Linked DNA regions of Homo sapiens. The protein of the gene in region 1 purifies or fractionates together with the protein of each later gene. This does not show direct contact. Each region holds a gene or a part of one and is shown on either strand. Other genes may lie near its edges.

What was found. Proteins that work in one complex are often made in the same cells at the same time.
Region 2: the proteins of EYA4 (region 1) and SLC25A15 purify together in Homo sapiens (affinity purification with mass spectrometry, with the first as the bait; one large-scale study listed by BioGRID). This does not show direct contact.

Annotation. Positions count from the first base shown.
Region 1 is NC_000006.12:133,464,857-133,468,356, forward strand, and holds part of EYA4 (protein phosphatase EYA4), read left to right. Parts: coding exon 1-2; intron 3-3,500. UniProt on the Homo sapiens protein: Tyrosine phosphatase that specifically dephosphorylates 'Tyr-142' of histone H2AX (H2AXY142ph). 'Tyr-142' phosphorylation of histone H2AX plays a central role in DNA repair and acts as a mark that distinguishes between apoptotic and repair responses to genotoxic stress.
Region 2 is NC_000013.11:40,788,152-40,792,410, forward strand, and holds the start of SLC25A15 (mitochondrial ornithine transporter 1), read left to right. Parts: upstream 1-1,459; 5' UTR 1,460-1,512; intron 1,513-4,259.

The DNA of each region.
Region 1 (3,500 bases):
AGGTATAGTAGCTTTTTGTGTTTATGCTTTTTATATGTATTTCAGATTTTTGAAGAGTACTCTCAGGTTGCCATATATGTGCATACTCTCCCAGAATAAGGTTTCTTTATTTAAAAATTATGATAGCATTTCAGGATAGTAAAAAATTAGCTATCTAGAATTCTTGGAATATGCATTATTCTGGCTATTTTAGATTTTTTGATTGCTAAAGGTTTGTGCTTTAAACATTTATGCTGTAGTTGTTTTAATCATTTGGCATGGAATTACAAAATGTATTGGATATTTTGCTATCTTAAAATATACTAAGAACAATTTTATTTTTCTTGATAAAGCAGTTATTATAATGAATATTAATTGGTTGAATCAATATTAATTGATTAAAATAAGTCATAGGATTATACTACAGACTATATAACATTTTCAGTCCTAAAAAGTGTCCTTTGTTACTAAACAAAATGCCTCAAAGACTACTGTTGGCTTTTAAATAATTTTTCTGTTTTTTAGTTTTATGAATACTTTTAATAAATGTTTGATTCCCACTTTCCTGACAGCTGCAACTTTTTGCTTTTGTCACTGTGCCTGCCTCTGGTAGTCTTTAGTCCTCCTTCTAATTATGTTTTCTTAATATTTTTGTGAGTTTTAAAATCTAGCATGTTAGAATTATGCATGAAGCAAGAGTGAATGTCCCTGAATAAGTAAATCAGCTCGGAGTGAGATGAATTCGTGATATATGTTGACACTTCCAAATCTTTTGTCCTTATTTTTTGATTTTCAGCCATGTTCGAAGTAGTTGAGATTGAAGAGTTAGTGGCTGACTTCTGGTCTGGCAATACACTATTTTACTTTAGTATAGTTGCTAGACACTTATATATTCTAAAATGTAAGTTACTGTACAAGTGCTTACTTTTTAGATTTACTGAAGGAATTTTATCAATTGCTTTATTTTAGTTTTATTGATATCACAAAAGGCAGAAAGGAAATTTTGATCATTAAAATCGTGTGGAATAATAATATTTTTGATAGGATTAAACGGTGTAATTTAGCATTAGGAAAATGATGTCTTAAAACACTAAACATCAGAGCCAGTGTATACATTTTATTTTTTAAAATTGAGGTTTTTTTTGTAACTTGATTTTATGCATTTATTTATTGGTCCAGCAAGCATTTATTGAGCACTTGCTATATGTTAGATTTTTGGCTAGGGATTGAAGATTCAAAACGAGTAACTCATTGTTCCCTGCTCTTTAGAAGGATTCAGTCCTCCGAAAGAAACAAATATGAAAATAAGATGGACAGAGGGTGGGATGGGATATAGTGAATATAATAACAGAAATATACACTAGGCAGAGTTGTACTATAAAGGAAAAACTGCTCTGCCTCTATTTGGGAGGATTAAGAAAAGATTTGTAAAGGAAAAGAGCATTTATTTGAAAAGAGTTAATCATAGAACAGATCTGATTCTCTGTGAAGATTTAAATATAGTGGATCCCAATGTAAAATGTAATCTGTATTTGGGACCATGGCCTGAGCACCAGTTTGTTGTTTTGGCTCATACCTATTGAGTGCCCATAAAGTGTTAGGAATTGGTCTGTATACTGGGGCACACGAAGGTGGGGCTGGAGTAGATCAGATCTGATTCCTGCCTCATAGAGCTTACAGCCTACTGGGACAAACATACAATAAACCAGTAAACACACAAATAAATGCAGAATTAGAAAGAGAACAGGGCCTGCGAAAACATCAACTGAATATAATTTTGAATAGGGGAGGTTTTATATAAGGCTTCTCTATGGAAACCACATTTAGGCCAAGACTTCTAAGAGTTAGGTGAAGAAGGAGGGCAGTGGTGTTTCAGGCAAAGAAAGCAGAGTGTACCAAATCCCCAATGGATGGAAAACTTGGTGTGTCACTGAACTTAAAAAAAAAAAAAAGGCTGGAGTTCAGTTAGTGCATGAGGGGGAAGTGGGGAAGCACATTTGCAGAGATAGGCGGGGGCCTGCTCACGTAAGGCCTGGTGGTTTACAATAAGGAATTTGGATTCTATTCCAAGCCCAGTGGGAGGCTATGATAGCATTTTGAGCAAGAAAATTACATCATTTAATTTATGTTTTGAGACGATAACTCTGCCACCAAGGTCTTTGGAGAAAGTCAGAAATGGAAACGAGGAGATAAATTTAAAAATGAATACATTGCCTGCAACAGGAAGAAAAGGTAGTTTGGACAAGGGGGCGACAGTGGAAATGAAAAGAAAGTGAGATCTTTGAGATATGTTTGAATATGAAAAGACATTATATTCCCCAGTGGGGAATAGCCTGGACCTTTCCAGTATGTAACCTCATCCTCTTCTGCAGGAATTAGTAGGCTAACAGAGAGCTTCAGCACAGATGTTTGACTTAGGCACTCTGGGTTTAAATTCTAGCTCTGAAACTTACTAGCTGTGTGACTTTGTGCAAATCACTTAACCACTCTGTGCCTTAGTCCCCTTCAAAGTAAAATGAATATAGTATTAAGACCACATAAGAGAGTATAAGGATTAAATGAGTAAATATATCTGAGCCCTTAGAACAGTGCTTTGATACAGAGTAAGCACTATGTAAACATTTGCTACCACTGTTTTACTCTGAGAGATATTGGTAGGAACTTTGTTTAAATATGATGAGGTTTTTGTTCTTGGCTCACAAGTTACAGTAGTGGGAAACATTGGATCTTGAAATTTTCAGACTAATAGAATTTTAGTTTTCTGCCATATTACTTAATCATTTATGAAGATATACATATTTACTTATAAAGATTATTTCTTTTATTTTTTGGAAACCACATCAAATGTAGATCTTTTTTCCTTTGGAACACATTTCATCAGGGGATCTTAATGTTATCAGTGATGACCAAGGATTTGTCATCACTGATAACATTTTGGGCTGACACATGCTAGATATCTTAAACACCAATTATCACAACAAATCCTTACTCATCATCCTACTGTGTAAAAGGATTTTGAATCATTTTAAGGTTCTTAAAATTTTTAAATAAAAAGCAGGTCAGGGGTGTTGATTCAGTGCTTTCATTTTTCTCTGTAACAAAGGAGGGAAACTAAATCATTGAAAAGTTCACTAAAGACTTTAAATCAAGGCCTCAGGTGGCATGTAGTTTGTGAGAGGCTGGGTAAAAAAAAAATAATAATATTCATCTTCTTTTATTTACTTTTTACCTCCTGCCAAGAAAACAGAATTATCAGTGGTAGCCCAGAAAGGAACAAAAATCACAAAAATGCAGACTGAGGTCTCTGTGGAGTCTAGGAGGGGCAGCCCCAACTCCTTGCTGGTGATGTTAGAAGATGTGTAAGAACGGATTTTGTGAATATGAGCTGATTCCATCTCCTTCTTTCCTCTTCAAACACGTAGGTCCTGATGATGTAAATCCTTGAATAAGTAACTATCAGGAGCAAAGTGAAGCATATGCTAACTTTAATCACATTAAAATTTGTGTACTGGACCTGGTTT
Region 2 (4,259 bases), on another chromosome or scaffold:
ATAACGTAGGTAATTATCCAATAGCACATCCAGACGTGGTGGCTCACACGTGTAATCCCAGCACTTTGAGAGGCCGAGGCAGGCAGATCACCTGAGGTCAGGAGTTCGAGACCAGCCCGGCCAAGGTGGTGAAACCCTGTCTCTACTAAAAAATACAAAATTAGCTGGGTGTGGTGGCGCATGCCTGTAATCCCAGCTACTTGGGAAGCTAAGGCAGGAGAATCGCTTGAACCCAGGAGGGGGAGGTTGCAGTGAGCTGAGATTGCACCATTGCACTCCAGCTCGGGTGACAGAGTGAGACTCTGTCTCAAAAAAAAAAAGAAAAAAAAAGAAAAAAATAATAATCCAACAGCACATCTAAACAAGGCTTAAAGTTGTAAAATAAAATTACACTGTGTGGAGGGTGTGTGTGTGTGTGTGTGTGTGTGTGTGTGGGTGAGAGAGAGAGAGAGAGAGAGATGAGGTCTCTGTCATCCAGGCTGGAGTGCAACAGTGCCATCATAGCTCACTGCGGCCTCCAATTCCTGGCCTCAAGCGATCCTCCCGCCTTGGCCTCCCAAATAGCTAAGAATAGAGGCATGTGTCACCACACCTTTTTTTTTTTGTCGTTGTTTGTTTGTTTTTATGAAACGGAGTCTCGCTGTGTAGCCCAGGCTGGAGTGTAGTGATGCAATCTTGGCTCACTGCAACCTTCACCTCCCAGATTCAAGCGATTCTCCTGCCTCAGCCTCCCTAGTAGCTGGGGTTACAGACACGCACCACCACGCTGGATAAATTTTTGTAATTTTAGTACACGGGGTTTCACCATGTTGGCCAGGCTGGTCTTGGACTCCTGACCTCAGGTGATCCGCCTACCTCGGCCTCCCACAGTGCTGGGATTACAGGCGTGAGCCACCATGCCCGGCTAATTCCTGTATTTTCATACTTAGTTGTATTTCCTATTAGGGCCTTGGATCCCGAGTATAATTTTGTACTCAAATATAATTTATAAATAAGGCCTTAGCCTCCCAACAAGGTCAAAGTAGCTAAAAAGTAAGTCCTCCCAACCACTGACATTACCAGCCCCCAGCCCCCAGTCCCAGCCCAGCGGGCTAACAAGGGTCCGGCCTCAGAGAGGGTCTCGGGGATCCCAGAGGTGGGAAAGTCTCCGGAGGCGCAGGCCCCGCTCTCCACCTTCACCAGGGTCGGCGGCAGCACCACGCCGGGTCGCGGGCTGGCTGTGCGCGCCGCGGCCCCACGCCCACTTCCGCTTCCCGTGCTGGGGGCGGTGGCAGGGCCGGTGGGCGGTGGCGGCTCCCGGTCTCGGCTCGGGCACGGCCCTGGGCAGGCCGCCCGCCAGCCGCAGGGGCGCTCCTGAGCTTCGCGGGGCCGCAGTCCGGGATGCCTGCGCGAAGGGAGGGGCGAAGGGCCGGCCGTTGCCGACGTGGGTGTTAAGTGGCCGCCCCAGCCGGCGACCCGGAGCCGAGAGCGGGCGGCGGAGCCTGAGCTGGACGCGGCCACGCCGGCGCGGCGGTGAGCGCAGCCCGGTCTGGCGCCTGCAGCTGCGGGGAGCGCGCCAGGCAGAGGGAGCGGGGAGCGGGGCGCGGGGCGGGCCTCGGTGTGCGGGCGGCGTGACCTTCCCGAGCGGCGGGGGAAGCGGCCAGCGTCGCAGCGCACGTGCCGCGGGACTCGGAGAATCTCGGGGTTGTCGGCCTCCTTCCTGCAGTGCCCACCTGGTGGGAACTTTTGTCCTTGTTTGCCCCCAAGTCCTGTCATTTGGCTGCGGGGCTCCGCGCCTCAGGGGCGCCAGTGCTGGGCAGCATGGAGCCGCTTGTGAATGGAGACTTGCTGGCTGCCCAGGAGTGGGCGGCTGGGCAGGGGCGGTGAACGTTTAGGGTCCGGCCAAGAAAGTTGGAAGTCGTCTCCCTGACCTGTTCCTTGCGAGGCCCGGGAGGAGACGCGCCTGGCCGGTCCTTGGCGGCGAAACTGATTTGCATCTCCACGCTTTACCTAAAGCCCGGGCTCTGGGGACTGGATGGCGAGCTGGCCTGCGGCTCCTTTAGCCAGAAGCTGGGATCTTCCCGCAGCAGTTCGTGTTCCCTGGTGGAAAATGCAGCCTCATCTACTGACTCTCCCTTCCAAAAAAAAGTTATTTTCCCCAAGGGTCGAGAAAAGTGGGTGGTCGGCACTGTTGTTCCTCAGTTGCACCCTGGTGTAATTTGAGAGAGGGGTCAAAGGCGCTGAAAAGATTCTTTTTTCTATTCCAAGTGCTACAGCAAGCTCATAAATCAATTTTAATTCATGCTGAACAGTCTTGCCTCCTCCAAGCCCTGTGTCTTCTCCAAGCCAGAGCTACACATAATGTGAATTAGCTGCCCACTCCTTCTGAGTGAATCTGTTAGTACCCATCATCGTTTTCTATCCTAATAATTCTAATGGCTATTTGTAGAATTTATTTGTTTGTTTATTTTTTTGAGACGGAGTTTCGCTCTTGTTGCCCAGGCTGGAGTGCAATGGGGCGATCTCGGCTCACCGCAACCTCCGCCTCCTGGGTTCAAGCTATTCTCCTCCCTCAGCCTCCCGAGTAGCTGGGATTACAAGCATGGCCCACCACGCCAGGCTAATTTTGTATTTTTAATAGAGACGGGGGTTTCTCATGTTGGTCAGGCTGGTCTCGAACTCCCGACCTCAGGTGATCCGCCCGCCTTGGCCTCCCAAAGTGCTGGGATTACAGGCGTGAGCCACTGTGCCTGGCCTATTTGTAGAATTTAATGTGTTTAAGTTTGGCTCACCTAACAGGGTTTAATTCTTAGGGACAGATAGAATGTAATGTGATGTGACTTTCCTTCAAAATTAAGAAGGAAGTGTCTGTGCCAAAAGAAATAAGCGCATTGAGGTTTATCTAGGAGGCCACATTGTACTTGCCTCTGTCTGTCTGCTCAGTTGCCCCCGTTTTTTTCTTTCCCAAAAATATAGGGTTGGGTGTTTTGTGTTGCCTTTGGCCAGGTTGAAATACTCAGATTAACGGTTGGTTTGTAGGCACAGGCCTGAAAAGACAGGACTTTGAACTGAATCCTCTGTCACTGACAGTTGTGTGGCCTTGGAGAAGACCTTGTCTTGCTCCAGGCTTTAGTTTGCCTTCTGGGAAAGGATTAGGACCCTGATAAACTTTTTATTTATTTATTTATTTATTTATTTATTTATTTTATTTTTTATTTTCTATTATTATTATTATTTTTTTTTTTGAGACAGAGTCTCACTTTGTTGCCCAGGCTGGAGTCCAGTGGCACAATCTCGGCTCACTGCAACCTCCACCTCCCGGGTTCAAGTGAATCTTCTGCCTCAGCCTCCTGAGTAGCTGGGACTACAGGTGTGCATCACCACGCTGGGGTCATTTTTGTATTTTAAGTAGAGACAGGGTTACACCATATTCGTCAAGCTGGTCTCAAACTCCTGACCTCGTGATCCTCCCACCTCAGCCGGCCCAAAGTGCTGGGATTACAGGCGTGAGCCACCGCGCCTGGCCAGGACCCTGATAAACTTTTTTAGGAAGATACCAGATGGCCACCACCTTTTCAGCCTAGTGAATGGTCCTGTCTCTCCAGACCTATCAACAGCATATAAATCAGTGTCTTGCACTTCTAACTTAGTTGCTTTATTAAGTAATGTGCCGTTGTTGCCACTGGTTTTAAATTTTTTGTGAATAAAGGAGGATTATTGAAGTCTCGTCGTTGGCAAGATGCTTCAAGAGGTTTAAACAACTTCTCCACGGCCAATGTTTCCTGTTGACGTTCAGGGTGACATTGGTGTTAGGAGCGTGCTTGGTGTTCATCTCTGATCCAGCACGATGGGTCACACGGCTCCTCAGTGTGATGAGGAATAAGTTGTTCCTTATTATTTGCAAATAAGTTACTAACACCGTTTGAAAACTGTACAGGATTGGTCGTTGAGTTGGATATTTTAGTCAACATTTATTAAGCCCATGCCTCAACAGTAGTTGACTTTTGTCTAAAGAGAGAGAAAGAAATTCTAGTTTTCCCAAATGCCCAAGGCTCCAACCAAAACATACTGAATCCAGATTTCCAGAGGAAAGTCCTGGCAATTTGGATATTTAATAAGTGCTCCAGGTTATCAAGTGGATTTGGACACAACGGCCCAGGTGTTGTATCTCAAAGTGTGAGTCTGTGGACTGGCACTGTCCGCCTCACTTGGGAACTCATCAGAACAGGCAGAACCTCTGGTCCTGTCCAAGGCTACTGAATCAGAGGCCGCATTTTATT